Homo sapiens: one gene and its partners. The protein of the gene in region 5 interacts with the protein of the main gene of each other region in a biochemical or structural test. Each region holds a gene or a part of one and is shown on either strand. Other genes may lie near its edges.

Evidence for each region.
Region 1: the proteins of PDCD6 (region 5) and TLK1 form a complex in vitro, tested with the Homo sapiens proteins (one large-scale study listed by BioGRID).
Region 2: the proteins of PDCD6 (region 5) and KLHL12 form a complex in vitro, tested with the Homo sapiens proteins (2 studies listed by BioGRID).
Region 3: the proteins of PDCD6 (region 5) and ANXA11 form a complex in vitro, tested with the Homo sapiens proteins (one study listed by BioGRID).
Region 4: the proteins of PDCD6 (region 5) and SARAF form a complex in vitro, tested with the Homo sapiens proteins (one study listed by BioGRID).
Region 6: the proteins of PDCD6 (region 5) and SEC13 form a complex in vitro, tested with the Homo sapiens proteins (one study listed by BioGRID).
Region 7: the proteins of PDCD6 (region 5) and YWHAQ form a complex in vitro, tested with the Homo sapiens proteins (one large-scale study listed by BioGRID).

What each region holds. Positions count from the first base shown.
Region 1 is NC_000002.12:171,150,345-171,154,591, forward strand, and holds part of TLK1 (serine/threonine-protein kinase tousled-like 1), read right to left. Parts: intron 1-4,247. UniProt on the Homo sapiens protein: Rapidly and transiently inhibited by phosphorylation following the generation of DNA double-stranded breaks during S-phase. This is cell cycle checkpoint and ATM-pathway dependent and appears to regulate processes involved in chromatin assembly.
Region 2 is NC_000001.11:202,902,739-202,906,985, forward strand, and holds part of KLHL12 (kelch-like protein 12), read right to left. Parts: intron 1-4,247. UniProt on the Homo sapiens protein: Substrate-specific adapter of a BCR (BTB-CUL3-RBX1) E3 ubiquitin ligase complex that acts as a negative regulator of Wnt signaling pathway and ER-Golgi transport.
Region 3 is NC_000010.11:80,198,641-80,202,887, forward strand, and holds part of ANXA11 (annexin A11), read right to left. Parts: intron 2,754-4,247; exon of another isoform or gene 2,619-2,753; intron 1-2,618. UniProt on the Homo sapiens protein: Binds specifically to calcyclin in a calcium-dependent manner. Required for midbody formation and completion of the terminal phase of cytokinesis.
Region 4 is NC_000008.11:30,066,065-30,070,311, forward strand, and holds part of SARAF (store-operated calcium entry-associated regulatory factor isoform 1 precursor), read right to left. Parts: intron 3,996-4,247; coding exon 3,578-3,995; intron 855-3,577; coding exon 713-854; intron 76-712; coding exon 1-75. UniProt on the Homo sapiens protein: Negative regulator of store-operated Ca(2+) entry (SOCE) involved in protecting cells from Ca(2+) overfilling.
Region 5 is NC_000005.10:277,802-282,048, reverse strand, and holds part of PDCD6 (programmed cell death protein 6), read right to left. Parts: intron 1-4,247. UniProt on the Homo sapiens protein: Calcium sensor that plays a key role in processes such as endoplasmic reticulum (ER)-Golgi vesicular transport, endosomal biogenesis or membrane repair.
Region 6 is NC_000003.12:10,304,113-10,308,359, forward strand, and holds part of SEC13 (protein SEC13 homolog), read right to left. Parts: intron 1,581-4,247; coding exon 1,447-1,580; intron 1,045-1,446; coding exon 921-1,044; intron 61-920; coding exon 1-60. UniProt on the Homo sapiens protein: Functions as a component of the nuclear pore complex (NPC) and the COPII coat. At the endoplasmic reticulum, SEC13 is involved in the biogenesis of COPII-coated vesicles.
Region 7 is NC_000002.12:9,589,296-9,593,542, forward strand, and holds part of YWHAQ (14-3-3 protein theta), read right to left. Parts: intron 2,221-4,247; coding exon 2,097-2,220; intron 1-2,096. UniProt on the Homo sapiens protein: Adapter protein implicated in the regulation of a large spectrum of both general and specialized signaling pathways. Binds to a large number of partners, usually by recognition of a phosphoserine or phosphothreonine motif.

The DNA of each region.
Region 1 (4,247 bases), on a different chromosome or scaffold from region 5:
ATAAAGTTAAAATTAAAAAGACATAACCTAAATGATTCGCTATAGTTGTTTTTTGCTCATTATCATCCCTTCCTCAGGAAAACTACACCTCATCCAATTCATGTCATCTCAAGGGGACTGTCAATCCTGGCTTTCTGTGGGTTCCCCAACTCACCCTAACCACAGCCACCACAGTGGCTACCCTTGCTGTAGCTCATCTCCCAGGTTCCAATGATTGGTTAAGGAACTGACAATCAGAATTGATTACCAACAACACAACTGACATGTGGACATCAGGAAAGAGAAGCTGTCTTTCAAGTGTGGTTGCTAAGCTAAAGGTATATGTCTGGGGCTCCAGAAGCAAGAGGCTAGAAAAACCCAGAAAGGAGACAAAGAAACCCAATGACATTACTTGCAACCTTGGATCTAGCTGTTTCCAAAGCCATTCCATCACCCTCCACATACAATACCCAGTATGTGAACCAATACACTCATTTTTTAACTTAACAAAGTCGTGTTGTTATTACGTGTAACCAAAGGATTCATGACTAACATCCTACCTAAAGAAGAGTAGTTAACCAATTATAGTGCATCCATTCAAGGAAATAACATTGACAGAATAGTGTAACTGTTAAGAGCATGTACTCAGCCCAGTCTGAATCCTGGCTCTGCTAAATATTCTCTATGTGTGCCTGGGTACATTCCTTTTTTTTTTTTAGACAAGGCCTCACTCTGTTGCCCTGGCTGGAGTGTAGTGGCGTAATCACGGCTCACTGCAGCCTCAACCTCCTGGGCTCAGGCGATCCACCTCAGCCTCCCAACTAGCTGCAACTACAGGCGTGCACCACAATGCCCGGCTAATTTTTGTATATTTTTGTAGAGACAGGGTTTCACCATGTTGTCCAGGCTGGTCTCGAACTCCTGCGCTCAAGCCATCTGCCCACCTCAGCCTCCCTAAATGCCGGGATTACAGGCATGAGCCACTGTGCCTGGCCCTTGGATACATTACTTAACTTCTCTATGCCTCAATTTCCTCATCTATAAAGTCGGGATAATAACAGGACTTCATGTGATTGTTAGGAGAAGCAAATGAATTACTATTTACAAATGCCGGGAATAGTGTCCAGCATTAATAAATATGTGTATCTTTTTTTTTTTTTTTTTTTTTTGAGACGGAGTCTTGCTCTGTCGCCCAGGCTGGAGTGCAGTGGCGCCATCTCAGCTCACTGCAAGCTCTGCCTCCCAGGTTCACACCATTCTCCCGCCTCAGCCTCCCGAGTAGCTGGGACTACAGGCGCCCACCACCACGCCCAGCTAATTTTTTTGTATTTTTAGTAGAGACAGGGTTTCACCGTGTTAGCCAGGATGGTCTCGATCTCCTGACCTCGTGATCCGCCCGCCTCAGCCTCCCAAAGTGCTGGGATTACAGGCGTGAGCCACCGCGCCCAGCCATGTGTATCTTTAAGTAAATGAAATAAGTATCTTTAAGTAAATGAAATAAGTAACAGAGTAGTATACAAAGTTGAACTAAACTACATATTTACACAGATGTTTAAAAGAAATCGGCAAGGAAAAGGGAAATTTTATATTTTTTATGAGGCAAATATACAGTATCAAAAAAGGAAAAAAGTAAAACATGTCTCTGGTCTTAGGAGACAGGATGAGTATGATTAGCCTCACACAAACCCCTCTGACCTTCACCAGAGGAACTACATTCATCCTCAGATAGGAAGCACTTACCTAAGTGTCCAGTGGGGAATCATGAAGTCACACAACTTATCATATTAACAGCAAGAATTTAAACCTAGTAGTTTATTTACTCCAGCTAATTAGTTTTCAAGGAAAAGCACAAATTTATGAGTATAACCAATTCTTAACAATCCACATAGATGAAGAGGAAAAAATATTTTAAGTCATCCCCCCAAAATACTTATATTTGGCTAATGAATCTATGTAGAATATAATCACTTTTATTTAAATACAGGTTAAATTGCCTTCTTGAAATTCATTAAATTTCAGACCTAATGATGAAGCCACATTGGAAAAATTTAATTCAAGTTTGACAACCTACCACCTGGATCTGCTCTGCTCTGCATATCTTTCCACTCCATGACTGATAAATTCCTATCAATCCATTCAAATCCTGCCTCTCAATTAGGTTTGCTATATAATACATGCTACCAAAGGTTTTGTTATTGTTGTTGTTGTTGTTGTTGTTAGCAATAAAAGAATTAAAACTAAGTATTTTTTTAAAATACTTTTTTACAGATTAGCTAGACTGCACATCCTCTTCCCCTTGCCCATACTGAATACTATTAACAGAGTCAAAGATCTGCCACTAAAGCATTATAATTTAGTTTAAAGCCTTGTCCATCAGGTTATAAAGCCTCCACAATAAATAGACTGCTCCGATACTGACAGTGGGAAGTTTTTTGTTCAAATTCTAGTATTTACTTGTTATGGCTCCAGTGGGTTTATGAGGCCAAAATATCAAGATAAATGGAATTACAAATTAGATTATCTAACATGGAAATAAAATTTTTCATTGATGTATCTCTAACATTTTCCATGAATGGACAAAACTTATCTTAAAAAAATGAAGTGTAGGATTTGCACAGCTGGTACAGCTTTCTAAATTGGGTTGTTTGGTTGGGGTTTTTGTATTTTTTTAAATCTTATCTTCACACGTGTATAAAAACTCATGCAAAAAAAAGTTAACAAAAGTTTAGAAGTAAAATGAATAAGCCTGGAAGTCTGATTAGTAAGTTAAAATCTGCTTAGGAAAAACTACTAAAATACTAAAAACCAAATTTTCATATTTTAGGCAATATATCCTAGTGATTAAAATACACCAACTTGGTTCAAATCCCCATCATGTACTACTCTAGGTCACACTGGTAAGTCACTTTACTTCTCTGTGCTTCAGTTTTCTCATCTGAAGATGGGAATAACAACTGTATGTAACTCAGAGTTATGAGATATAAGAATTAACATGTGCGAACACAATAAACTTTAGCTATTACTGTTACTGTTATCCATATCACCCTCTAAAATATAGTTCACTTAAGAATTACTAAAATAAGCATCTTCCTGGGTCTGAAATATGTGCATACCATGATATATAGAGAGATGATGTATGTGAAACAGTCCTTTGACAAAACTTTTAGTTGAGTGCCAACTCTGTAGAGGATGTCCTCCTGTGCACTGAAAATACGAAAATGAACAAAATATAGTCTCTGAATTCAAGACCTTTCTGTCTAGTAGACAATATAAATAAAACTATAATAAAAGTAGCATGATGCAGATGCTATGGAAACAGACAATCCTGTGAGACACTAAACAACACAGGCACTTAACTAGGGGCAGACACAGGGGTCCCAGATAAAATAAACTCCAGCAATATTTTCTGAGGAACAATCACCTACTTACTTCACTTCCGGGTATCACACTGTTATTTACGCAATTTATATTATTAATATATTAATAAGTGTTTTACAAAAAACAAGACTACCTATCACACTACTTACCATGCTCATAAACTTAAATACCCTTTGGTATTAATGAAGATGTTTTCTTTTTTCTTTTTTGAGACAGGGTGTCACTGTGTTGCCCAGGCTGGAGTGCAGTGGCATGATCATAGCTCACTGCATCAACTGCAGTCTTGAACTGCTGGGATCAAGGTGGGATCCTCCCACCTCAGCCTCCCCAGTAGCTAGGACTACCGACATATGCCACCATACCCAGCTAACTTTTTTTTTTTTTTGAGACAGGATCAGGCTAGTCTCAAACTCCTGGACTCAAGCAATCCTCTTGCCTTGGTCTCCCAAAGCTGGGATTACAGGCCTGAGACATAGCACCTCGCCTGATGATATTCTCTTAAAAAAACAAAATATAACCTTGCAAAGGTTATACTGCCTCTTCAAGAAACATTTCTTTCACCAATAAATAAAAGCTACAAACTTTCCCCTAATAAATTATATTACGACTAATGTCACAGGAATGACAATATTTTTGAGCTGGAAGAGACCTTTGAGAGCCTCTAATCCAATGCTCTCATTTTACAGATGAAAAGAGGCTGTAAAGTATAATGGAAAAAAAAAACCAACCTGAGAGTCAGAAAACTGAATTTTGGGCCCAACTGTCTTACAGTGAAAGCCTGTGCAAATTATCTGCTTCCTCATCTGTAAAATGAGAGGTTTGTACTAGATTGCTTCCAAGATCCGGTTCAGCTCTGTAATTCTTAGTTTATGGAACTGAAGCAGAGATAA
Region 2 (4,247 bases), on a different chromosome or scaffold from region 5:
TAGCACTTTGGGAGGCCAAAGCAGGCAGATCACATGAACCCAGGAGATCAAGACCAGCCTGAGCAGCATGGCAAAACCCTGTCTCTACTAAAAATACAAAAAATTAGCCAGGTCTGGTGGTGCACACCTGTAGTCCCAAGTCCCAGCTACCTGGGAGGCTGAGGTGGGAGGATCACTTGAGTCCAGGAAGTGGACGCTGCAGTGAGCCAAAATCATGCCATTGCACTATAGTGACACAGTGAGACCTTGTATCAAAACAAACAAACAAATGAAATAGATCACCATGGTGGCATACGCCTGTAGTCCCAGCTACTGAGGAGGCTGAGGTGGGAGGATTGCTTGAGCCCAGAAAGTGAAGTTTCAGTGAACCAAGATCATGCCACTGCACTCTAGCCTAGGAGCCAGAGTGAGACCTTGTCTCAAAAAAAAAAAAAAAAAAAAAAAAAATTACTTTGAGACATAAGGTGACTTTTTGAAGCTGTTACCAATTACACTCCCACCAACACTATAAAGGTGCCAACTCATTCTACTTTCTGAGGCACTGGATAGTTTTTAAATCTCTGACACTCTGGTAGGCAAAAAATTATGTTTAATTCTTTATAACTAATAAGACCCTATTATTAATTAGGTTGAACTCCCTCCCTTGTATCTAGTAGCCAGCTTTACTTGCCCTTCTGCGAACTGTACACTCAAATCTTTATTGTTTCTCTCATGCATTCTTGTTTTTTTTTTCTTTTTTGAGACAAGGTCTTGCTCTGCTGCCCAGGCTAGAGTGCACTGGTGCAATTATGGTTCACTGCAGCCTCAGCCTCGACCTCCTGGGCTCAAGCATCCTCCTAGCCTCCCACTTCAGCTTCCCTAGTAGCTGGGACCACTAATTTTTTTCTTTTCTTTTTTTTTTTGAAACGGCGTCTTGCTCTGTGGCCCAGGCTGGAGTGCAGTGGTGTGATCTTGGCTCACTGCAACCTCTGCCTCCTGGGCTAAAATGATTCTCCTGCCTCAACCTCCCCAATAGCTGGGATTACAGGCATGCGTCACCATGCCTGGCTAATTTTTATACTTTTAGTAGAGACAGGGTTTCATCCTGTTGGCCAGGCTGGTCTCGAATTCCTGGGCTCCATCGCCTGCCTCAGCCTCTCAAAGTGCTGGGATTACAGGTGTGAGCCACTGCTCTTGGCCCTGTCTCATGCATTCTTATGAGCTCTTTACACACAAATGGTTTTAACCCTTTAACCCTTTATCTATCTATCTATGTATCTATCTATCTATCTATCTATTTATCTATCTATCTATCTATGAGATGGAGTTTTGCTCTTGTTGCCCAGGCTGGAGTGCAATGGCACGATCTTGGTTCACCACAATCTCCACCTCCCAGGTTCAAGCAATTTCCCGAGTAGCTGGGATTACAGGCATGTGCCACCAAGCCCGGCTAATTTTGTATTTTTAGTAGAGACAGGATTTCTCCATGTTGGTCAGGCTGGTCTCAAACTCCCGATCTCAGGTGATCCACCTGCCTCAGCCTCCCAAAGCGCTGGGATTACAGGCGTAAGGCACCCTGCCAGGCCAACCCTTTAACCCTTTAAAGGGTTGTTCCAAACCTATGTTCCTAATTTATCATAATTTTGTATATGATTTTTTTATTTATTCAAATATGTTTTTATTCTTTGTCATTTCTTCCACTATTTTGTGCCTAGAAAGTCCTTCTTCCCCAGAAGAACTCCTAAGGTTTTAATGTTTTAACCCTAAGTTGGAGACCAATACTCAAACAATCTGACTCGTGTAAAAAAAAGCTAGTGAAAGAGTCAACCTGAAAGAAGCCTGTTTGTTCTCTGCCAATGATGGAGTACTTGTTAAGTGAGATTTTTATCTTTTTAATGAGAAAAGCTTGTCTAGGACATCTTACAAGAACAGTGTGAAAAAGCACATTTCTAAAACTGAAGAACCTGGCAGTGGCATGGTCATTATTTTTAGAAAGAGGGGAAGGGGAGTGTGTGTGTGCTGTGACACGTTGTTAGAGAAATAAGGCAGATGCAGGACTGCTAAAATAACAGGGTTCAGAGACTCACATTTCCATTTGCACTGATCTTTAGTTCAAAAAAGGAGACAGCCACAAATTAGAAAAGTAATTTCCATTATATCTTCTTTGAGACAGTAATGGGTAAGGTTAATAACTAAAAATCCCTTATTTGGCAGGCTATTTTAACTTGGCTGTCAATTTAATTTCCTTCTGCTGTATGCAGAAGAGTCATTATCCTGGTAGCTGGTTTAGCAGCCAATATGCATAGAGATGGGTAGAGGACATGATGGTAAGAACAATCTACCTGCTAAGGCACTGACAAAGCGATACTAAGAATCTAATTGGAAACTGCTTCAGCATTTCCCTTCTAGAACTTCTGAAAAATAACCTCAAGACTATGAAGATATATAGATTTATAGTTTAATCCCTTAAGGTCAGGGCAATAAGCAAGTTCTCTAACCAAGCAGGAGCCCCTTCTGCTGCCTGTTCAGAGATATGCAAGAAATGTACCTCCAAAGAATCTTCTGGGTTTACTGATTCACAAAAATTTTCATTAGCTTTTAGTTCAATTTAATAAGCAAATAATGAGTGCTATCATGCAAAAAGGAAACATTTTTCTGTGTTGGAAAGTACCTTAGTGACTGAACATTAACTCTGTTGATATAAAGAACTGGTAACCCAGAGAAGTTAAAGGACTTGTCCAAACAGCAAGTTACTAGAGTGAGTGTCGGAAATTGGAGTAAAAATCAAAGTAAGCAAAATGTCTTATCTCCTAGTGCCAGGTTCTTTCCACTACATCACTGGCTTTCATGGTATAGGTTGAGTAACCCTTATCTGAAATGCTTACGACAAGAAGCGCTACAGATTTCAGACACTTTTGGATTTTTGTAATATCTGCATTATTTCTTTGCACAACTATTTGCGCATCCCTAATTCAGAAACCCCAAATCCAAAATGCTTCAATGAGCATTTCCTTTGAGCATTATGTTGGCACTCAAAGTTTTAGATCTTGGAGCATTTTGAATTTCAAGATTTTCAGATTAGGGATACCCAACCCGATTTTTTTTTAGACAGAGTCTCACTCTGTCGCCCAGGCTGGAGTGCAGTGGCGTGATCTCAGCTTACTGCAGGCTCCATCTCCTGGGTTCACGCCATTCTCCTGCCTCAGCCTCCTGAGTAGCTTGAACTACAGGTGCCCGCCACCACACCTGGCTTTTTTTTTTTTTTTTTTTTTTTTGTATTTTTAGTAGATACGGGGTTTCACCGTGTTAGCCTGGATGGTCTCGATCTCCTGACCTCGTGATCCACCCGCCTCGGCCTCCCAAAGTGCTGGGATTACGGGCATGAGCCACCGCGCCCGGCCACCCAACCCAATTTTTAAAAATAATAATTATTTTTTAAAAAACAAAAGTAATGGCCAGGCGCGGTGGCTCATGCCCGTAATCCCAGCACTTTAGGAGGCTGAGGTGGGCGGATCACCTGACGTCAGGAGTCCGAGACCAGCCTGGCCAACGTGGTGAAACCCCGTCTCTACTAAAAAATACAAAAAATTAGCCAGGCGTGGTGGCACACACCTGTAATCCCAGCTACTTGGGAGGCTGAGGCAGGAGAATCGCTTGAACCCAGGAGACAGAGGTTGCAGTGAGCAAAGATTATGCCACTGCACTCCAGCCTGGGCAACAAGAGCAACGCTTCGTCTCAAAAAAAAAAAAAAAAAAAAAAAAGTTCCTACCCTGGGAGGAAAGGCAAAATTGGGAGTTTATTGTTTAATGGGTACAGAGTTTCAGTCTTGTTAAGACAAAAAGAGTTACAGAGATTGATTGTATAACAATGTATTTAACATGAGTCAACTGTACATGTAAAAATGGTTAAGATGGTAAATTTTATGCTAAATATATTTTATTTAATTAATTTATTTATTTTTGAGATGGAGTCTCACTCTGTCGCCCAGGCTGGAGTACAATGGTGCAATCTTGGCTCACTGCAACCTCCGCCTCCCGGGTTCAAGCGATTCTCCTGCCTCAGCCTCCAGAGTAGCTGGGATTACAGGTGTGCACCACCACACTCAGCTAATTTTTGTATTTTTAGTAGACATGGGGTTTCACCATGTTGGCCAGGCTGGTCTCGAACTACTGACCTCAAGTGATCTGCCCACCTTGGCCTCCCAAAGTGCTGGGATTACAGGTGTGAGACACCGTGCCCGGCCTGTTACATATATTTTACAAAAAAG
Region 3 (4,247 bases), on a different chromosome or scaffold from region 5:
TTGAGAATGCTAGGGACAACAGTCCATAAGGAGCCTGGTGCCAAGACAATCTCATGGAACACACACTTAACCTCGACCCTGATTTTTCAAGAAAGAGTGAGAGAGTGAGTGAGAGAGAGAGAGAGAGAGAGACGGGGCTCCTCTCTTCATTCACAACCAAACCTGAAACGTAATACAGGTGGCGTGGGGAAGATGACGATGAGAAACTTAACCCAACAGCAAAAATCAGGAAAGGAATGCATGCAAGTATAATAAGTAATAAGCAAGATGCAAAGAATAAAATCAAGTATATCTGGTATGTCAACAGTCAGAATTCCTCTACCAAAGACAGAAACCATGCAATTAGGTTTGTTGCTGTTATCATTGCCTTCTGTCAACCTCCATCCACCCTCAACCACGTTCTGATTATAAGAGAAACAAATTTTATTTACGAAGATTCCATCTTCAAGATAAACTTTTTTTTTTTTTTTTTTTGAGACCAAGTCTTGATCTGTCGTCCAGGCTGGAGTGCAGTGGCACGATCTCGGCTCCACTGCAAGCTCCGCCTCCCGGGTTCATGCCATTCTCCTGCCTCAGCCTCCCGAGTAGCTGGGACTATAGGCGCCCGCTACCACGCCTGGATAATTTTTTATATTTTTAGTAGAGGCGGGATTTCACCGTGTTAGCCAGGATGGTCTCTATCTCCTGACCTCGTGATCTGCCCGCCTCGGCCTCCTAAAGTGCTGGGATTACAGGCGTGAGCTACCGCGCCCAGCCAAGATAAACTTTTTTAAGTGAGAAAGAAATATTTAAAACTAAGGGTTGGGCAAAGACATACCAAATAAATGCAAAGAAAAACAGAGGTGGAAATATTAATAGTAAAAATAGGCTGGGCACAGTGGTTGGCTGGGTGCAGTGGCTCATGTCCGTAATCCCAGCACTTTGGGAAGCTGAGGTGGGCAGATTACTTGAGCCCAGGAGTTTGAGACCAGCCTGGGCAACATGGCAAAACCCCATCTCTACCAAAAATACAAAAATTAGTCTGGTCTCAAAATAAATAAAAATGAAAAAATATGTAAAATTTAAAAACATATATGTTGAAGACTTTTCGATAATCCTGCCTTAGCAAGCCAAGGGGTTTTTCCAGCCATTTCTCTCTGGCATTTGCCTTTATCTGTAAACACAGTACTTGGAGAACTACTCACTAGGATCTCAGGGTACAACAAGGCATAGCCTAGTCCAGCCCGCTGAGACAGTTTATGTGGCTTAAAACACAAGCACAGAGATGAGCTTATGACTTGGGGCCCGCGTCTTTCTGACTTCTGGCCCTGAGAAGTGTTTGTACTGGCTACTCTGTCAAAAACTCATCTTGCTGTCTGGAATGAGGAAGGAAATGCGTAAATGAGAGGCAGAGCAGTCCGCTTCTTGGACCTACAGGAAGGGGCAGGAATTGCAAAGTGAGAGAAGAGGTTCCCAGGCAACGTCCCAGGAGTTTGCACGCAAATCTCATTTTATCCACCCCTCCTAAAAATCTGGCTATCATGGGAACCATTAGGACAGCCAAGGACAGGGAGCTCATGGTCATCAGTGAGACCTGATTACTAACCGCTCCATGTGAGCCTGAACAGAAGCTAAAGGGGCATGGCTTGAATGTCCTCTGATGCCTGCATTTAAATTTCTGAGCCTTTCACTTATTATCTTATAAAATGCACTTATTTATTAATTTTAAGACTGTAAAGAAAAGAGATTCTCCCAGATCCTTGGCCATGTATTCTCCTAAAACACAGACAATATGGAATTTAAGACCAAAGACCAAAGGCATTAAATAACCAGCAAATGACAGGTAGGAAGATCAGCTTGATAAGCCTATATACATGAAACACGAAAGCCAAACTCAAAAGGCTAGAACTCCCACAAATATAAGTAGAGCTGGACTTTAAAAAACTACAGTGAGAGTTTTTGTTATACCTCTCAGAATCTGACAGCCAGGCAAGCAGGGATATAAGGGTAACTGAAGTTAAGAGATCTATCTAAAGTCAGCGTCCCGCAGAGGACCTATTTTCTCCTTTCACGCCCATGAAACATGTTAATATTTATCATGCAGTTGGCCACAAAGAAAATTTAATACCAGCCAGGTGCAGTGGTTCACTCCTGTAATCCCAGCACTTTGGGAGGCTGAGGCGGGGCGGGGGGATTGCTTGAGGCCAGGGCTTTGAGACCAACCTGGGCAACATGCTTCATTCACTCATTCATTCATTCATGAGAATGAATCCACTTTGTGAAAGAAGCAAACCCTTGCAGGTACCTAGGTCTGCCTGAGCACGGAGCGCCGTGGGGAGGGATGTCAGTGGCAGGCCATCCACATGTTCCCTTCTGGGATTGGAAAGGGAGCAGGAGGGTAAATCGAGGCAACAGAATCAAACACTCCCTCAACGACGTCCTCTTCGCCTTCAAAGCCAACATTTCAGAGCCTGTCTATCATCAGATCCTCACGTCCTGCTACTCCTCACCCATTCACTCCAACCTCGCTTCTGCTCACATCATCCCACCAAAGCAGTGAAGGCAGCCACATCTCCTCCATATCACTCACCACAGCCGCGATGCCAAGCTGACCACTCCATCCCACGAAGCAGACTCACCCTGGCCCCTGGGATACAACTCTGTCCTGGCTTTCTGGGCCCCTCTCAGGTCGCTCTTTTTCTGGGTCCTTTATAGGCTCATCTTCCTTTACTCAGCTGTTCGAGGTGAGTTCTTCAATCTCGCTGTGCCCATGACTTCAAATACAAACACAACCTAGACAAATGTCTGTCTAGCCAAGACGCCTCCTGAGCCCCAGACCCACCAGCTTATTTGGTATCTCAAAGACACCTCAAACACAACATGTCCAAAACCAAATACATGATCTTCTTCATCCTCCAAACCTGGTCCTCATCCAGTGTCCCATGTCTCAGGGACACCAGGTGGATGACTCTAGGGTGAGTGGGGGCGGTCTCTCCTTTTAAGCACACCACGCAGGGCGAGGCCAACAGTGGGTTCTCAGTAATAAGCAGTTCTACAGGAACATGCCTTGTCACCTACTTCCTAAAAATAGCCGTGACCTTTTTAGTGGACACAGCAAGCTCACATCTGTTATCACCACTCCTTCCCCACTGTCACACGCACCCTTTCCCCCAGTGGTGCCACTCCCCAGGCTGGATATGCCATATGCTCCCTAGCCTCCCTGTGAGCAGCCTCCACATTTCTCTTCTCTGCCCTCACTCAGATTTCCCCCATCTCATGTCCTCCAAGTCAGCCATCCCCAAGTGTGAGGGGCAGGGGACACCTGACTTCCTTCTCAATTTCCTTTCCTTCTTTTCTGCTAAGGCGGAGCCTAAGCCCCTGGAAAGCTAGAGATCCCAGAACCAGGCTTTGACCACCGCACACTCCACCCTCTGCTTCACAGCTCCTGGCAGTCACACACCCACGGTATCAACATTGTCATCACCACCCGCTAACTGATCTCAAACCCCTTTGCAAACATCTTCTCATCTGATTCTCCATTCCAGGCAGGCATTTTATCATCCAGAACTGTTCTGTGGGGGGGAAGCGGGGGGTCTCTGTGTGGCTGGGTGGCTTGTCCTAGGATACCTAGCACAGAGAACTCTGTCCCCCAATTTCTTAGTTGCCCCCACCCATTCCTTCCTCACATCAGCATGGGCAAGGCCAGCTGTGGTTTGGGTCACTGTTCAGGCTGTACTTTTAGGATCCTCCCAAATAGCAAACAACTATGTGACTATCAGGTCTTTATTTCATGGGTTATAGGAGATAGGGTCAGTAAGCCTAATGTGTAACAGTTTCAGTGGTTATTACAGAGTTCCATTGAATTGCAACAACTCCCTTTAAAAGCACAAACTCCCACCAAGAAAATCTCAGTTTCTTCATTAATCCTAAGAGCTTTCCTATCTAGGTATCACTCAAAATTCCTACTATTCTGGGGGCAATGGGATCAGAGGGTGTTGCAGAGAAAAATCCAGAGAAAGTGAAAAGTCTACTTCCTTGGCAGTGCTGGTGAAGCATACCCTTACACAGACGCTTCCCCATGGGAACAAGTGCCAGGAACTGCTTCAGGCTTACGGGGGAAAACAGTGGCTAAGAAGAGAGAGGAGGCCGGGCACGGTGACTCATGCCTGTAATCCCAGCACTTTGGGAGACTGAGGCAGGCAGATCACCTGAGGTCAGGAGTTCAAGACCAGCCTGGCCAACATGGTGAAGCCCCGTCTCTACTAAAA
Region 4 (4,247 bases), on a different chromosome or scaffold from region 5:
GCCCTATTCCACGTGCCAGGGTAGGAGGGAGGATAGGACGGGTAGTACCACGAGTCTGAGAAGGGTGTTGCCGCTCTTTAAAGGGATAAAAGTAGGTTAGGCATTTTTTTCTTGTGGCTATAATTTTTAAATACCTTCCTGTTCCTAAACTGTCAGAAAAAAATATCTTTATCAAGTATTTTTTCCTGAATGTTCTGGTATATCAGAGTTAACATGAAATAAAAACCGTTTCATATTTCTGCCATTATTATGGTCACTGCTATGGGGGAAAAGTGACAGGGAGTCAATGCTCTTTCTGAATTTGCACTCGAATAAAATCTAAACTTAAACTACCATTAATACTTCATATTCCAAAATCTGGCCCCAAGCTCTTTCCAGCCTTATTTTTATCATTCTCCTACCAAACCAGACTGTTCCCCAAATGCTGTCTTCTTTCCTGCCTTCTTATTTTCTCAGATGTCAACTAAACAGTCTTTTTCTTATCTCATAATATATATGAAGGTGACACAGGAAGAAACACAGTGAAAGAAAATAACATACACAATACTGATCAAAACAAATATAGTGTACCTTCCCCCTTCCCAGAGAATCTTATTTAATAGGCTAACGTCACCACAATTTATTTTCCTTAGCAAAACTAAATGCAGTTAAATTGTAAGCAAAACAAGCCTCTTGAATTAAAGAGCAAGTGAGATCAATGCAAAAAGCTTACCTATTGCTGCCAAACAAATATCCTAGTATTCCACCAGTTCCCAAGCCTGTCCAGAACCCTGGTCCTGAATTTTCATATCCTTGTTGTCCTGTAAAAGCACTGCCAAAACCAGAAGTTGCACCATGGCCAGTATTCTGTGGTCCTTAAAATAAAAATGATTTATTATGTATCCTCACTTAAACATGACAGTCTACAAAAGCAAAGATAATGTAACATTTCAATTATTTCATCTGTACTGAATTATTAATAATACTCAGGCATCAAGTTATTAACAAGTTGTATTCAAAAAGGTATTTGTAAAATACTGGTTTATAATGAGGGAGAGCATTTCCCATAGATATGGGAGGAGAGGGATAGATTTTGGGACTGGGGAGGGTCTTGCTATAAAATGACATCTGCCCTGCTCAATCAGCTACTAGAAAATCACCCCACTTTTCAGGGTTACTTTCTCTCTGCAGTACAAACTCTAAGTGGAGTCTCTAAGAGCTCCAGATGAGAGCTGTGCCTCAGTCTCTAACCGAGGAATCCAAGGGGAGGCAGCCAGATATTTATTTGTGTCAGTTGGGAAGTCAGATCTCAAAGGGACCTAAAAAGTATCTTCTGCTCAGAGGAAGTTTTAACTGATGTATACATATATATAAGAAAGTGTGCTAATCTTACACGTGTGGCACAACAAATTTGTACATATGTACCTATCCATGTAACCACCACCCACACCAATAAACCATTTCTGGCACCCCAGAAGGCTCCCTCATGACAACTCCTAATAGATTCCCATCTATGTCAGAGATCAGCACTACTTTAACTTCTCTTACCATATTTTAATTCTGTCCATTCATGAACTTTTTCTAAACAGGATCACAAAGTATGTATTCTGTGTCCGGCACATCATTATGTCTATGGGAGTCAATCCTACCATTGCATTATCAGTTTTTTTCTTAACTCATGTGTCTTCCACCGTGTGAAAAATTTACACAGTCCCATTCTAATGTTTATGGATATTCCACCTCCATTTTTTGGCAGTTATAAATAAAACTGCTATGAACATTCCTGTGCATCTTTCTTGGTGCACCATGCATTCACTTCTCCCAGGTATGTACATAGGAATAGAATTGGGTATGCATGTTTGGGTTGTTTTACCATTTAAACTCCTACCGGCAAAGTATGAAAGTTCCAGTCACTCTACATTCTTGCCCATACTTGGTACTCTGTCTTTTTAATGTTAGCCATTATGGTGGTTATCTGGTGGCTAAAAATAATCTCCCTGTGGTTTTCATCTGCATTTCTCAGGAGACTAATGATGCTAAGCACCTTTTCTTATTTCTGTTGAACATGTAAATCATGGGTTGGGACCCCAGTACTGCTCCACGGCCTGTTAGGAACTGAGCCACACAGCAGGAGGTGAACAGCAAGCAAGCGACTGAAGCTTCATCTCTATTTAAAGCCACTCCCCCATCACTTGCATTACTACCTGAGCTCAGCCTCCTGTCAGATCAGCAGCAGCATTAGATTCTCATAGGAGCACAAACCCTACTGTGAACTGCACATGCGAGGGATCTAGGTTGCATGCTCCTTATGAGAATCTAATGCCTGATGATCTGTCACTGTGTCCCATCACCCCCAGATGGGACCATCCAGTTGCAGGAAAACAAGCTCAGGGCTCCCACTGATTCTACATTACATGAGTTGTTAATTATTTCATTATATATTACAATGTAATAACAACATAAATAAAGTACACAATAAATGTAATATGCTTTAATCATCCCAAAACCTTCTCTCCCCACCCCACCCCACCCCAACCCCCCTAGTCCGTGGAAAAATTGTCTTCCACAAAGCTGGTCCCTGGTGCCAAAAAGGCTGGGGACTGGTGAAGTAGATGTCTTCTCTTATTATAAAATGGGCATTCAAGTCCTCTTTGGAGGGCCTGTCTGCCTGTTGCTCAGATTTACAGGAGTTCATTTTATGTTCTACCGGAAATACATTTTATATATATATATGCCGGAAATACGTTTCGTAAATTTTTCCCAGTCTGTAGCTTGCCTTTTCACTCTCCTAATAGTGCCTTTTGATGATTAGATGTTCTTAATTTAAATAAAGTCTAATTTACCCATGTTTTCTTTTATGGCTAGTACTTTTTATGTTCTGTTTAAGAAATCTTTCCCTATCCTAAGGTCATAACAAATATTCTCCTATGTTTTATTCTGGAAACTTAATTGTTTTACCTTTTACGTTGAGATTTATAATACTTAAAGAATTAATTTTTATGTATAGTGTGAGACAGGAGTCAGGGCAAATGATTATTAGCAAAGTTGATCAAGTTTCTCTGATTAAGAGTATTTATAATTTAATCAGGCATTTTTTTTTTTTTTTTTTTTTTGGAGACAGGGTCTCGCTCTGTCACTCAGGCTGGAGTGCAGTGGCGCAATCTCGGCTCACCGCAACCTCCACCTCCCGGGTTCAAGTGATTCTCATGCCTCAGTCTCCCAAGCAGCTGGAATCACAGGTGCCCGCCACAACACCCGGCTAATTTTTGTATTTTTAGTAAGAACGGCGTTTTACCATCTTGGCCAGGCTGGTCTCAAACTCCCAACCTCAAGTGATCTGCCCACCCCGGCCTCCCAAAGTGCTGGGATTACAGGCGTGAGCCACCGCGCCCGGCCAATCAGGCATTAACATAGCAACCACAATATACCTTGGGAGAGAGCCAAACAGAAGAGGTAAAAGAAGTTGAAAGTAAAAAACAAAATGAGAAGACAAACCTCCTTTGGTTTCCCAATGCAACGATTTTCTATTTCAGAACCAAGCACAGGATGCACTAACCTCACACCCGCTCTATTTATGGCCACTGCGAGGGAAACATACCTGTGAACTCAGACTTAAAGCCTGGGGGAGGAGGTCCTGCTGAGTTGGTGAATCTCTGGTAACGGTGGGAAAATGGAGGATACTCAGAGTACGGTGGAGGAGAATACTGCCCGTCACTCAGGAACAGCTTATAGACTACAAACGCGATCCCAAGGAGTACCACAATGGTAATCAATCCACTCATGTTACAGGAATCCGCCGAGGACCACTTATAATAATAATCAGAGAAAGAGGCAAAGCCGTGCTGCTTTCCAGACTCCTTCAGTTTCTGCAGGCCAAGTTCTGTATAATCTAAATTATACTCCAAGCCACAAGAACCTCTTAGTACATACTGGTCTTCAGAGGACTCATAGCCTTCACAGCTCACCACAGTTTTTCCAAATTTGTATGCAATATCTAAGTCCGTCTTACATTCCCACTGTGAAGAAAAATAGAAACAGACTATTAGAAACAAACATTTTTTTCATTTAATATATGTTACTTGGGGGCCGGGCGCAGTGGCTCACACCTGTAATCTCAGCACTTTCGGAGGCCAAGGCGGGTGGATCACGCGGTCAGGAGTTCAAGACCCGCCTGGCCAAGATGGTGAAACCCCATCTTTATTAAAAATACAAAAATTAGCCAGGCGCAGTGGCAGGCGCCTATAATCCCAGCTACTAAGGAGGCTGAG
Region 5 (4,247 bases):
AGCTCCTATCTGTATCTCCAGCTGCAGGGCCCTCAAACTAGAATATCAGCTCCTCCCCGAGTCTTCAGCTGCATGACCCTCAAACTAGAAGATCAGCTCCTCCCCAAGTCTTTAGCTGCATGACCCTCAATCTAGAACATCAGCTCCTCCCCGAGTCTTCAGCTGAAAGACCCTCAAAGCGAACAACATCAGCTCATCCCCGAGTCTTCAGCTGCACAATGCTCAATCTATAACATCAGCTCCTGTCTGGTTCTCCAGCTGCACGACCCTCAATCTAAAACATCAGCTCCTCTCCGGATCTCCAGCTGTAGGGCCCTCAAACTAGAACCTCAGCCCCTCCCCGAGTCTTCAGCTGCACAACCATCAAACTAGAACCTCAGCTCCTCCCTGTGTCTCCAGCTCCACAACCCTCAAACTAGAACCACACCAGTTCCTCCCTGGTCTCCAGCTCTACGACCCACCAATTAAAATAACATCAGCTCCTCACAGATCTCCATCTGCATGACCCTCAAACTAGAACACCTCTCCCACCTGGATCTCCAGCTCCACGACCCTCACAGAACAGCCAAACCAGCTCCTTCACTGTCTTCAGCTCCACAACCTAAGACATCAGTGGCAGCACCAGCTCTTCCCTGGACCTCCAGCTCAACGACTCTCATAGACTTAAAAGGCAGCACCGGCTCCTCCCCAAGGCTCCATCTCCACCACCTTCAGATTTGAACAGCGATAGCACCAGCTCCTCTCCAGGTCTTCAGCCCCAAGACCCTCCCTGACCAATCCCTTCTTACGAAATTCAGCAGTCAAGAAAACTGCAGCAGAAGTAAATGAATAAATGTTTTGTTTTCAAATCGATGTCTCTTTTATGTTCATGAGTTAACTTTTCTACTTTCCATTAGCCTTGCAATCTACTTATGTCCAATGTGAAACAGAAACACACCATTTGAAATCACGTTTAAAAACTTAGTAGTATTTTTAAAGAAAATCACCACACAGCTGTAGATGCGATCTTATTTCTCTCTGCCTGTGCAGAAGTCTTATGAAAATTCGAACTATGAATTTACTTTGTTGAGATTCCCAGAATACACATTAATCCCAACTGTTACTCCCCTCCTTAAAATCTTTTAACATATTCCCATCACTTGAGCATAAATGCCAGCTCCCATCCACAGCCCAAAGTGCCCAGCACGGCCCTGCCCTCTACCCTGGTCTATGGTCTCCCCTCTTAAATGCCAGCTCCCATCCACAGCCCAAAGTGCCCAGCACGGCCCTGCCCTCTGCCCTGGTCTATGGACTCCCCTCTTAAATGCCAGCTCCCATCCACAGCCTACAGTGCCCTCACAGCCCTGCCCTCTGCCCTGGTCTATGGACTCCCCTCTTAAATGCCAGCTCCCATCCACAGCCTACAGTGCCCTCACAGCCCTGCCCTCTGCCCTGGCCTGTGGTCTCCACTCTGGTGCCTGGCCCAGCCCTCCCCACCCCTCTGCCCTGGCTTATGGTCTCCCCTCTTAAATGCCAGCTCCCATCCACAGCCCACAGTGCCCAGCACAGCCCTGCCCTCTACTTCGGTCTATGGTCTCCCCTCTTAAATTCCAGCACCATCCACAGCCCACAGTGCCCGGCACAGCCCTGCCCTCTGCCCTGGTCTATGGTCTCCCCTCTTAAATGCCAGCACCATCCACAGCCCACAGTGCCCAGCACAGCCCTGCCCTCTGCTCTGGCCTAAGGTCTCTCCCCTGTGCTGTTCCCTTCCTGCCGGACAGGCCTCTATCCGTTCCTCAAACCACACAGGCTCAGGCCTGACTCCAGGCCTTTGCCCTGCTGTGCCCTCTGCCTAGGGTGCCTTTCCCGGGCTCTGCATCCTCCTCTCAACCCGCTGAGCTCCAGCCTGCTGGTCGCCCCTCAGGTGGATGAACACATGGTGTCCTCTCGCCCCGCTGGCTTTTGCACAGGCTCTTCTCTGTGCCAGACACAAACCCTCTCTATCGGGGTTTACTCTCTAAATACCATTCGTCCTTGGAGTCTCCACTGAAATATCGCTCCCTGCCCACCCCCCTCCCTTGGACTTAACCTTGGTTAGGTTGCCAACCCCCGTCTCCTGACTCCGGGAAGCTAGATGCTCTCCTAGCACTCGGAACTTGCCCATCGCCACATTTTGCACACCCGTGATTACTGGGTTAGGTTGGCGCACAAGTCATCGCAGTTTTTGCCATTACTATTAATGAACTGCAGCACCGGCTCCTCGTTTTTTTTTTTTTTTTTTTTTTTGCCATTACTTTTAATGACTGCTGCACCAACCTATTAGAATCATTTATATTTATTCATCCATCATCTGCCTTCCCCTCTAGAAAGGAAGCTCCATGAGAATAGAGGCCAAATCTACTCAAATAACTCCACCTTCCCACACATTGTCAATAATCATTTACCAACTGACTGATAGAGAAATGCCTTCCCTGTTGCTGGGATGAGGCACATGACACGCCCCTTTGAAAGTCACTGTCATGGACAGTTGGCATTTGCTCTTCACTGCTGCACCCGTGGCGTGGCTGGGCTTAGGCTGATCTAGTCTGGCCTTGACTCTAGGCTGAGGGTGGGAACCATGCCTGCTCCACACGCCTCTCATTCCACAGCCAGAGCCGCCGTTCCCTGGGGCACGCATATCTCGTGGGGAAAATCAAGAGCCTAAGAGGGCAGGCCTGGCAGTGCCACACATTCCAGGCTTCTGCTTGTGCCGTGTCTGTGAAAATCTCGTTGGCAGAAGCAAGTCACCCAGCCACAAGCAACACCTATAAGTCCATCCACCCTCCCTCCGGCCCTGGCAAGGATGCGGCTGCGTCATACTCTTAGGGGGGAATGAAAAACTGAGGCCCAAAATTAAATCACCCATGGCAAGAAATGTCAGTCTCTGTGTCCCCACACTGGAATTCTTCTTCACCAGCGGGTTTGCCTGAGCTGACTTCCCTTTGCAATGGTGTCTGCAGGTTTAGGCCAATGCTGTTCCCCATGGAGGACAGAGAAGCCTCAACGGGCCTCTCTGTTGGGAAGAACAAGATATTAGCTTGGCGCGAAACAACCGCAAGCCACAGGTGGCCCACACCCCGTGAGACAGGAGAGGGGCAGAGAACTGTGGGAACTCAGGAAAGCTTGCATCCCTAGCCCCTCCCATGTCCCCAGCCCCTCCCGTGTCCCCAGCACCCTCCCCCGCATCCCCAGCACCCTCCTGTGTCCCCAGCACCCTCCCCTGCATCCCCAGCACCCTCCCCTGTGTCCCCAGCCCTCTCCCCTGCTTGCCCCATCTCTTTCTTTTTTTCATTTTCTTTCTTTCCTTTTGTTTTATTTGAGACAGGGTCTGGCTCTGTCACCCAGGCTGGAGTGCAATGGCACGATCTCGGTTTACTGCAACCTTCACCTCCTAGGCTGAAGCAATTCTCCCTCCTCAGCCTCCCCAGTGGCTGGGACTACAGATGCACGCCACCATACCCAGCTAAATTTTTTTTTTTTTTTTGGGAGAGACAGGATCTGCCATGTTGCCCAGGCTGGTCTCAAATTCCTGAGCTCAAGTAATCCTCCCACCTCAGCCTCCCAAAGTGCTGGGATTACAAGCATGAGCCACCGAGTCCAGCCTGCTTTATTTTTCTCTACAGTACTTGGAATCTTCTAATATACTAAGGACACGTGTATTTTCTTTCTGTCTTCCCTAGAACAGGAGCTTAATGTGGGCAGGTATTTTTGTTGATCTCATTTATCACCCTATCCCCAGTGCCTGGACAGGGTCTGGCACATGAATGGTGTGTTCTAAATAAATATTTTTAATAGATAAATAAATGAAATATCCTACAAGAGAAAGCTATATCTGGAACTCACCCACCAACAGAACCTAAAAGCCAAAGACCTTTAGCCTGTCTCTGCCTCTGAACACACCCAACCCCGGAGGAGCCAGCAGAGGAAAAAGAGGACAAAGGTGGGGAAGGGAGCAGGTGGTGCCCACCAAGTAAGGAACCCTGAGGCTTAGGCGGAACCTGAGCTGGAGAAGGGACTCATCTAGGAACTGGGTATGAGATTAAAGTTTAGATTTGTCTGGCCTGGATTTTGTTAACACCTAAACAAGGGTTATTCTATTCTTTTTTTTTTTTTTTTTTGAGATGGAGTCTCACTGCCCCCCAGGCTGGAGTGCAGTGGCGCTATCTCAGCTCACTGCAACCTCTGCCTCCCAGGTTCAAGTGATTCTCACGCCTCAGCCTCCCGAGTAG
Region 6 (4,247 bases), on a different chromosome or scaffold from region 5:
TTTAGGGGACCACGTATTGCTTGAGGCATCATCACAGGTCCAAATGAACACACGACCATCCTAGGAAGAAACAGGATAGAGTCAGGAGGTGGAGTCAAGACTCCTGCGTTTGTGATGTGATGTCCTCCCAGTCTAGAGCCACCCGGCACCTCTCTGCAGGAACAGGGTGGGGGATTCAAAGGGGAGCCGAGGACCTCTGGGGCGTCCACAGCTTTGTTTCTGTCTCTTCACACTGGTTAAGAGTCTCCCGGATTCCTTTTCTCATCCGGGTTTCGGAGGTGGACTCTGTCTGCATTGCTAACTCAGATTTTCTCTGGGGTTTTCCTCATGCCTGCCAAGTCACTTCCACTGGCCGTCTATACCTTCTCAACTGAATGGGCAGAGCTCTCCAAAAACCAAGCTCCAAGAATGAGAAGGCACAAGTAAAAAAGCACAAAAATCCCAAGTTTAGAACCAAACCAAACAGGTTCCCATGATGTGAAAGGCCTAGCTGGCTCCCTCTAGGGTGGTGGTGTATAACTGAAGGCTCACCCTTGGCCGTCCTTGCTGTCTGGGAAGGGTGGCTTGGTAGCTAAGCGTATAATTCCCATCCAACCCCATCGTTGCTTGGGAACACTTGGAACTGCACCTGGGCACCTCGGCGCCCTAGTCTCACATGGGTCAGAAGGGAAAATTCATCCCGAATCCGCCTCCTTCTTGGTGCCGGTTCTGTTGTAGCTGTCTCATCTCAGTGGAGGCAGGCCACTTGTGGCTTCTGACCAAGACTTCCCCACACAATGACCTGACTCCCTGTGCTCTGGGCCAAAGGTGCCTGTTGCTCTCCCTTTACCTTCCCAGAGGACTTTCTGCTAAGGAGACTAAGAGCTGATGGGCCTGACTCGAGACTAAATGACAAGGGATACTCATGGCCCTGGGCTGACCTGGGAGCAGCTGGCGATGGTGCTGGTGGGCAGGCCGATGGAGGGGGCCCAGGCCACATCTCGAACCCAGTCACTGTGCGCTTCTAGCTTCTGCTCCTCCTTCCACTGGCCGTCCTCCTCCTCCCTAACAGTGGGGACAGAAAGAGAATCAGCAGGGGGCCGTTCCCACACCTCAACTCCTCCCCAACCCAACAGGCTCTGCCTGGGGTGGAGAAGCGATTCCATCTTTCTTCTTTCATTCATGGAGTTTGTGGCATTTTATTCCCTTCACCCCAGCTGTAAAAAAAACCCTCCAGAAAATGCTCTGCTTCCACAGCCAAAGAGTCAGCTCCAACAGTTGGGAATTAGGTGAACAGGTGTTGTGTTGTTTTTCAAGGATGTCCTCCAACAGATTGAAAACAGTATTTTACTGGCAGGAGGGAGAAAGAAAGGTGACCTTGTTTCTTGTGAGTGTGGCTGAGTCATGGTGAGTAGGGTAAAGGGTAGAAGTGTCCCCTCAAAGAGAAGGCCACACATCCCTACTTACTTCCACAGCTTGATGAGGTTGTCACAGCCACCTGATGCAAACCTCTTGATGTAATTGGGTTTCTGCCCCGATGGGTGGTCTATGAGGCTTCCAGGTACAACAGCAGGGGCCCAGCTGACGGCATTGCAGCCAATCTGTAAAGATGGGACACATGGTGACTCTGCCTTGCAAGAGAACACTGCTTCTGCAGACCCAAGCCTGCTGTCCCTCTCCCCTCCGCTTCTCAGGACTGGAGTGTGTGTGAAGGCTGACATGAAGCACTCATCATGGGGTCCACTGCTCAGAATTCTCCCTCAAGGATCCCAACAGTGTGTGCATTTTTCTGCAGTGTGCGCTAAAAGTAGAAATTAAGAACTCCCACAAGTTTAAGAAACAGGACATTTTCTAAACACATGAAAGAATGGTACATTGGAGCTTTTTTTTAAGAAAAATCTTTTATTATAAAGTAATAGATCAAGAAACAAGAATTCTGCCACCTGCCTGAAAAGCCCTGTCATTATGCCCTTCCTAATCACAGCTCCCTCTTCCACTATAAGTAACCACTGCCCTAACTTCTAACCCATTTTCCCCCCATTTTATCACCCAAATGTGCACCCCTAGATACTATAGTTTAGTCTTGTCCATTAAACATTTTTTTGGATGTTTTTTACATCTCCTACTTTGCAGATTCCTCCTCTGATTTTTTTCCTTACAATTTTTCTGCTGAAGAGAGCCTAGTCTCTCGGTCTGGGTTTTGCTGCTTCATATGCAGTTCAATATGTTCCTCTGAATTCCTGAAAACTGTCAGCTGGAGCCAAGACTGGACAGACTCAGGTGTGATCCCTTTGGCAAGACTAGAGCTGGTGCGTTCTCTCATCAGGAGGCACGTTAGATTGTCTCTTATATTAACAGCTGTCAATAACTCAGGCCTCTCTTAATTCACTGGGGCTTGTAAAATGGTGATACTCTAATTCCATCCTTTCTTTGTCATTTATTCCATGGAATGCTCCAGATAGGGACACTTCTTCTCATTAACTATTCAGTTACCCAGGGATAGAGGTCTGATATGGTTTGGCTGTGTCCCTACTCAAATCTCATCTTGAATTCCCACGTGTTGTGGGAGGGACCTGGTAGGAGGTAATTGTATCACAGGGGCAAGTCTTTCCCATGCTGTTCTCATGATAGTGAATAAGTCTCGCTAGATCTGACGATTTTAAAAATGGGAGTTTTTCTGCACAAGCTCTCTCTTTTGCCTGCTGCCATCCACGTAAGCTGTGACTTGTTCCTCCTTGCCTTCTGCCATGACTGTGAGGTTTCCCCAGCTACGTGGAACTGTGAGTTCTCCATCCTCTTTCCTTTGTAAATTGCTCAGTCTTGGGTATGTCTTTGCCAGCAGCGAGAAAACAGACTAATACAAGGTCAAAAAGGAAAGGCTGGATAAACGCTTGATTCTTTCTGAACTGGTTCTATCACTTTCCAAAGATGACTGATTCTCCTCTTTATTTATTATTAACAATTTTTTTTTTTAAAAATTGAGACAGGGTCTCACTGTCACCCAGGCTAGAGTGCAGGCTGGTAAGATCATGGTTCACTGCAGCCTCAAACTTCGTAGGCTCAAGTGATCCTCCCACCTCAGACTCCCAAAGTACTGGGATTATAGGTGTGAGCCACTGCCTTTTTTTTTTTTTTGAGACAGAGTCTGGCTCTGTTGCCCAGGATGGAGTGCAGAGGCGCGATTTTGACTCACTGCAACCTCCACCTCCCAGGTTCAAGTGATTCTCCTGCCTCAGCCTCCCGTGTAGCTGGGACTGCAGGTGTGTGCCACCACGCCTGGCTAATTTTTGTATTTTTAGTAGCGTCGGGGTGTGTTAGTCCATTTTCACGCTGCTGATAAAGACATACCTGAGACTGGGCAGTTTACAAAAAAAAGAGAGGTTTAATGGACTTACAGCTCCATGTAGCTGGGGAGGCCTCACAATCATGGCAGAAGGCAAGGGAGGAGCAAGTGACATCTCACATGGATGGCAGCAAAAAGGGAGAGAGAGCCTGTGCAGGTGAACTCCCCTTCATAAAACCATCAGATCTTGTGAGACTTATTCACTATCAAGAGAACAGCATGGAAAAGACCTCCTCCCATGACTCAACTCCCACTGGTTACCCCCTACAACACATGGGCATTCAAAATGAGATTTGGGTGGGGACACAGCCAAACCACATCATGGGGCTTTGCCATGTTGGCCAGGCTGGTCTTGAACTCCTGAGCTCAGGTGATCCGCCTGCCTCAGCCTCCCAAAGTGCTGGGATTACAGGTGTGAGCCACTGTGCCTGCCCTGGGCCCAGCCTTTTAACCCTCATTTCGTCTTAGTTCTCTACAAGTAACTATATATTTATGCTGAAGTCTTTGTAGTCATTTTAGTTGTGTGACTTGTATCCTCTAGTAGATTTCTCAGGAAGGGCTCCTAGAAACAATAGTCCCTGAATTCTTGCATATTGATAATAGTTCATATCCTTTACACTCAAAAGCTAATTTTAAAAACAGCTTTGATATAGTATAATTGACATAAACTGCATATCAAGTGCATGATTTGGTGAATTTTGACAAAAATATATCCTGTAGGATCATCACATCACCTCAATCAAGATAAGGAACATGCCCATCATTCCCAAAAGTTTCCTCGGATCCCCTGGTAATCCATCTCCCCATCCTGCAGCCCCCAATCGTGGTGACCATGGGCCTGCTCAGCTGCATTTCCTAGATATTACAGCAGTGGAATCACAGTGTGTCCTTTTTCTTCTTTTTTTCACTCAGCATAATTATTTTG
Region 7 (4,247 bases), on a different chromosome or scaffold from region 5:
GACTGGAATAATTTACAGTGGCTCACGCCTGTAATCCTAACACTTTGGGAGGCTGAGGCAGGCAGATCACCTGAGGTTGGAGGTACAAGACCAGCCTTACCAACATGGAGAAACCCCGTCTCTACTAATAATACAAAAATTAGATGGGAGTGGTGATGCATGCCTGTAATCCCAGCTACTTGGGAGGCTAGGCACAAGCCTCACTTGAACCCGGGAGGCGGAGCTTACGGTGAGCCAAGATCGCGCCATTGCACTTCAACCTGGGCAACAAGAGCAAAACTCCATTCAAAATTAATAATAATAATAATAATTTGACTGGAATACCCTTTCCCTAAATAATGTAAACTTTACAAAGATCATCAACACCAAAATCTCTATTTTTCTGATTTGCAGAAATACTGATTCTTAGTATCAAGTGGTATTATTTGAAAGGCAATATAAAAGTTTCAATAAATAGGACAAAATCTGCTCTGACCAGAGTTTGATTACTAGCCTAATTAAAATGTTACTCCCCCTTCAAAAAATGTTCAGTATTACCAACACTAATCTGATTATACCCATGTTTTGAAAAGGGTAGTTTTCTGTATGAGGCCACTGGCCTATTACAGCTTTAGAGATACTGACGTAAGAGAATTAAGCTATCCCTTTATGACCTGAATTATGTTCATTTTCTTTCCTCTGAAATGGCACATTTATTGATCTAATCCCTGACTGGTACAGCCCACATGCAATAAGAAGTTCTTGCAGCTTGGCAAATTAGGAAGCACCAGTGTCTCAGCAATTAGGCTATAAAGACAGCCTATCTATGAATCGCAGCCTATCAGAATGTACACAGGACTACGTGTGAGACCTGAAAGTGCCAATGAGCTCCTAAGGGTTAAATCAGGTTAAAGCTACAGCTATGTCTCAATCTCCCAAATACTTCTCTTTGGCTTTCTGATACTTAAATGTACAGTTCCGTGCCCGTATCATGTCCAATTCTGCTTACCTTCATGGCAACAGAAATTACACATCAGTAACAGAATAAGTAAGTTTAGTATATAGATTTTGTTATAGCAAGGTATAACAGTTTCTCAGGTACAAGTTCTCTTTATATATTCAGTTACACTGATATTTAGGATGGCAAAACTCTCATTTTCAGATCATAGTAACTATTTGTAGGGGTATATCTTTGTAGACAGGGCAAAATTAAGAACAAAACAACAAACTTACTGGAAAAAATAAGGACTGACACTTCTAATACCTAGAACTTGATAAATCTGGTAGCAAGCACATACACTAAATTTAATGAGATCTATCTTATATTCAGCTGCCAGTATCCCAAGAGACATTCACTGCAAATAAATTCACTTCACTTTTTTATTATCAAGTTAGGCAATTCGGTCACTTTTTCTCATATCCATGTTTTCTATGATAGTCTAGGTTAAAAAAAAAAGGTATTTAATACTAAAATCTATTTTTATGACCACTACTTGATTAATCAACAGTTCCTGTATATTCAACCTTCTCAAGTAAAACCTAACCATGAGTCATTCAAACTTACTGTGAAGTTGGAGCAAGTTATACACCAGCAATAACACACTCATTTCACCTCTCCTCAGAAATCTGATTATATGTAATTAGCAGTCAATGTTATGACCCCTTAAAATAGACGATAATGAATATGACAAACAGCAAAAGCACAACAACCTGTTTCCACGTTCTGTATGTAATTTCCAGTGATCTGAAGTTTTAAGGCATAATAGAAAGGCCATGTGAAATGCAGAATCACTCATAAAGTTTACACAAAAAACTCTGGAGCTAAAAATATGGTGAACCAAAATTCTAAAAAGCATAAAAGATTAATCCTGTTTTAAATAATACCATATGAGATTACAGAGTTCACAGATGAGCTTAATTTTTTTAAAGAGCATGTGATGTAAATTTATAATCCAATTTTCATTTTTGAGAACATAAGGTAATACTAATTTTCTTGACATACATTCAATTATTAAGTCACAAAGAGCCTGAAGACTACGTATACTGTCATAGTGTCCCATTTATCCCCATTTCTTTTTTTTATATTCTACTTTTGCCCATATAACAAATAAACTTACGTTTTCGATCATCACCACACGCAACTTCAGCAAGGTACCGGAAGTAATCACCCTTCATTTTCAGATAGAAGACCTTACTCTCTGGATTAGTTGCATTGGCTATTAAATATTTATCCAACAATTCCTGAAATAAATAAGACAGAACATTAGGCACTAAACTTCTGCCTACTGTGCATTATCATTAAATGATAAAACTTCTGCCTAGCGGGCATTTCAATCATTTACTACTACAGTAATACTATACCATACCAGCCTGGACTTGAAGCATGTTCTTAGAGCAGGGGTTAGGTTGTTGCCACTAGTTGCCCTGGGAGGCTTTAAATGATGTAGCCTATAGTTTCTAATGGTAAGGCTAGATTCTAGATTACACCAAACATTGTAATTTGAAACAGCCTATCTGTTCACTCATCCATTCATTCAACATTTACTCATACCTGCTAGGTGCTATAACGGATATAGAGAAGACTTAAAATCAGGCCCCTGCCCTCAAGAAGCTCACCGTCTGTAAGTACACCAACTACATACCAAGAACTAAGAAAGATGTGAATACGGTGCTAAGGAAGCACACAGATGGAGTAGCTCTGCTGGAGATGGCCTCCAGTTAAGACAGGCTTCCCAGGGAAAGAGTATTTGAGGCATGAAGAAGGAAAAGTAGAAATGCACCAAACAGAAAACAGGGATGTGCACTCATTTTAGGGACGGGAAACAAAATGTTTAAAACATCAAGTACGAGGGAGAATAGTGCTACTCAGTGCCCTTTGCATTCAAGTATCCATCTAAAATGAGGTAAATACAGGAATCGAGAGTAAGAGGTTTAGAAACTTGCACAGCAATTTAAAAGAATAATTTTAGGTCTACGAAATCTAATTATTTTTTTAAAAAAGTTCTTGAGTATGTCTTTTGTCCCTAATTTCATACAAAGAAATTTTCACTTCTAGTACATGGTATGCTATGCCTTGGAGTATAAAAAGTCACAAAAGACAAATATGATAGAAATCTTCTTAGATTCCATTTTTCTTGATGCTAGGTCATCCATTTAAAAACCTTTTTAGGGCCGGGCGCGGTGGCTCACGGCTGTAATCCCAGCACTTTAGGATGCCAAGGCGGGCAGATAACAAGGTCAGGAGTTCGAGACCAGCCTGGCCAACATAATGAAACCCCGTCTCTACTAAAAATACAAAAAATTAGCCAAGCGTGATGGTGGGCACCTGTAATCCCAGCTACTCAGGAGGCTGAGGCAGGAGAATTGCTTGAACCTGGGAGGTGGAGGTTGCAGTGAGCCGAGATCATGCTACTGCACTGCAGCCCGGGTGACAGTGTGGACTCCATCTCAAAAAACAAAAACAAAAACAAAAAAAGCTTTTTTGTATTAAATATTACAAAGCAAAATGAAATTCTCATAAAAATGTTAAGATACTAATACCTACTTCATTGGTTTGTTTTGAGAATAAAACCAGTAACAGATGTCAAAGCCTGGAATAGTGTCACATGTTAAGTACTCAGTAAATGTTAGCTAGTATCAGCCTAGGTACACAGTTTGAAAAGCACTGCTCTAGGAAAAGTGAAACTAGTGAACGTTTTAAAGCAGGGAAGAGAGAAGATCCTTTTTACATTTTGGAAAAATAACCACAGATACGCTCAGTTAATATTATATAAAATACCATCCATGATACCAAGTTGGCAAGTCTGGAGAATTAACAAGTAAGGTTGAGTCAAATTCACATAACTGCTAAAGAAAAGGAAGGCTGTTTATAAATTTAAAAATATACAATTCTAACCAAGAACTTTCTTCTTGTTTATCTGACTAAAAGTGGTCTAACAAAATGCAATCACTGCATCCATGTCTTTTTTTTTTTTTTTTTTTTTGAGACAAAGTCTCACTCTGTTGCCCAGGCTAGAGTGCAGTGGTGATTCTCAAATGATTCTCCTGCCTCAGCCTCCCGAGCAGCTGGGACTACAGGCGCACACCACCACGCCCAGCTTACTTTTGTATTTTTAGTAGAGACAGGGTTTCACCATGTTGACCAGGCTGGTCTCAAACTCCTGACCTCAAGTGATCTGCCCACCTCGGCCTCCCAAAGTACTGGGATTACAGGCGTGAGCCACTGCGCCTGGCCCATAAGTTATTTTTAAAGAAAATAAACAGAGGCT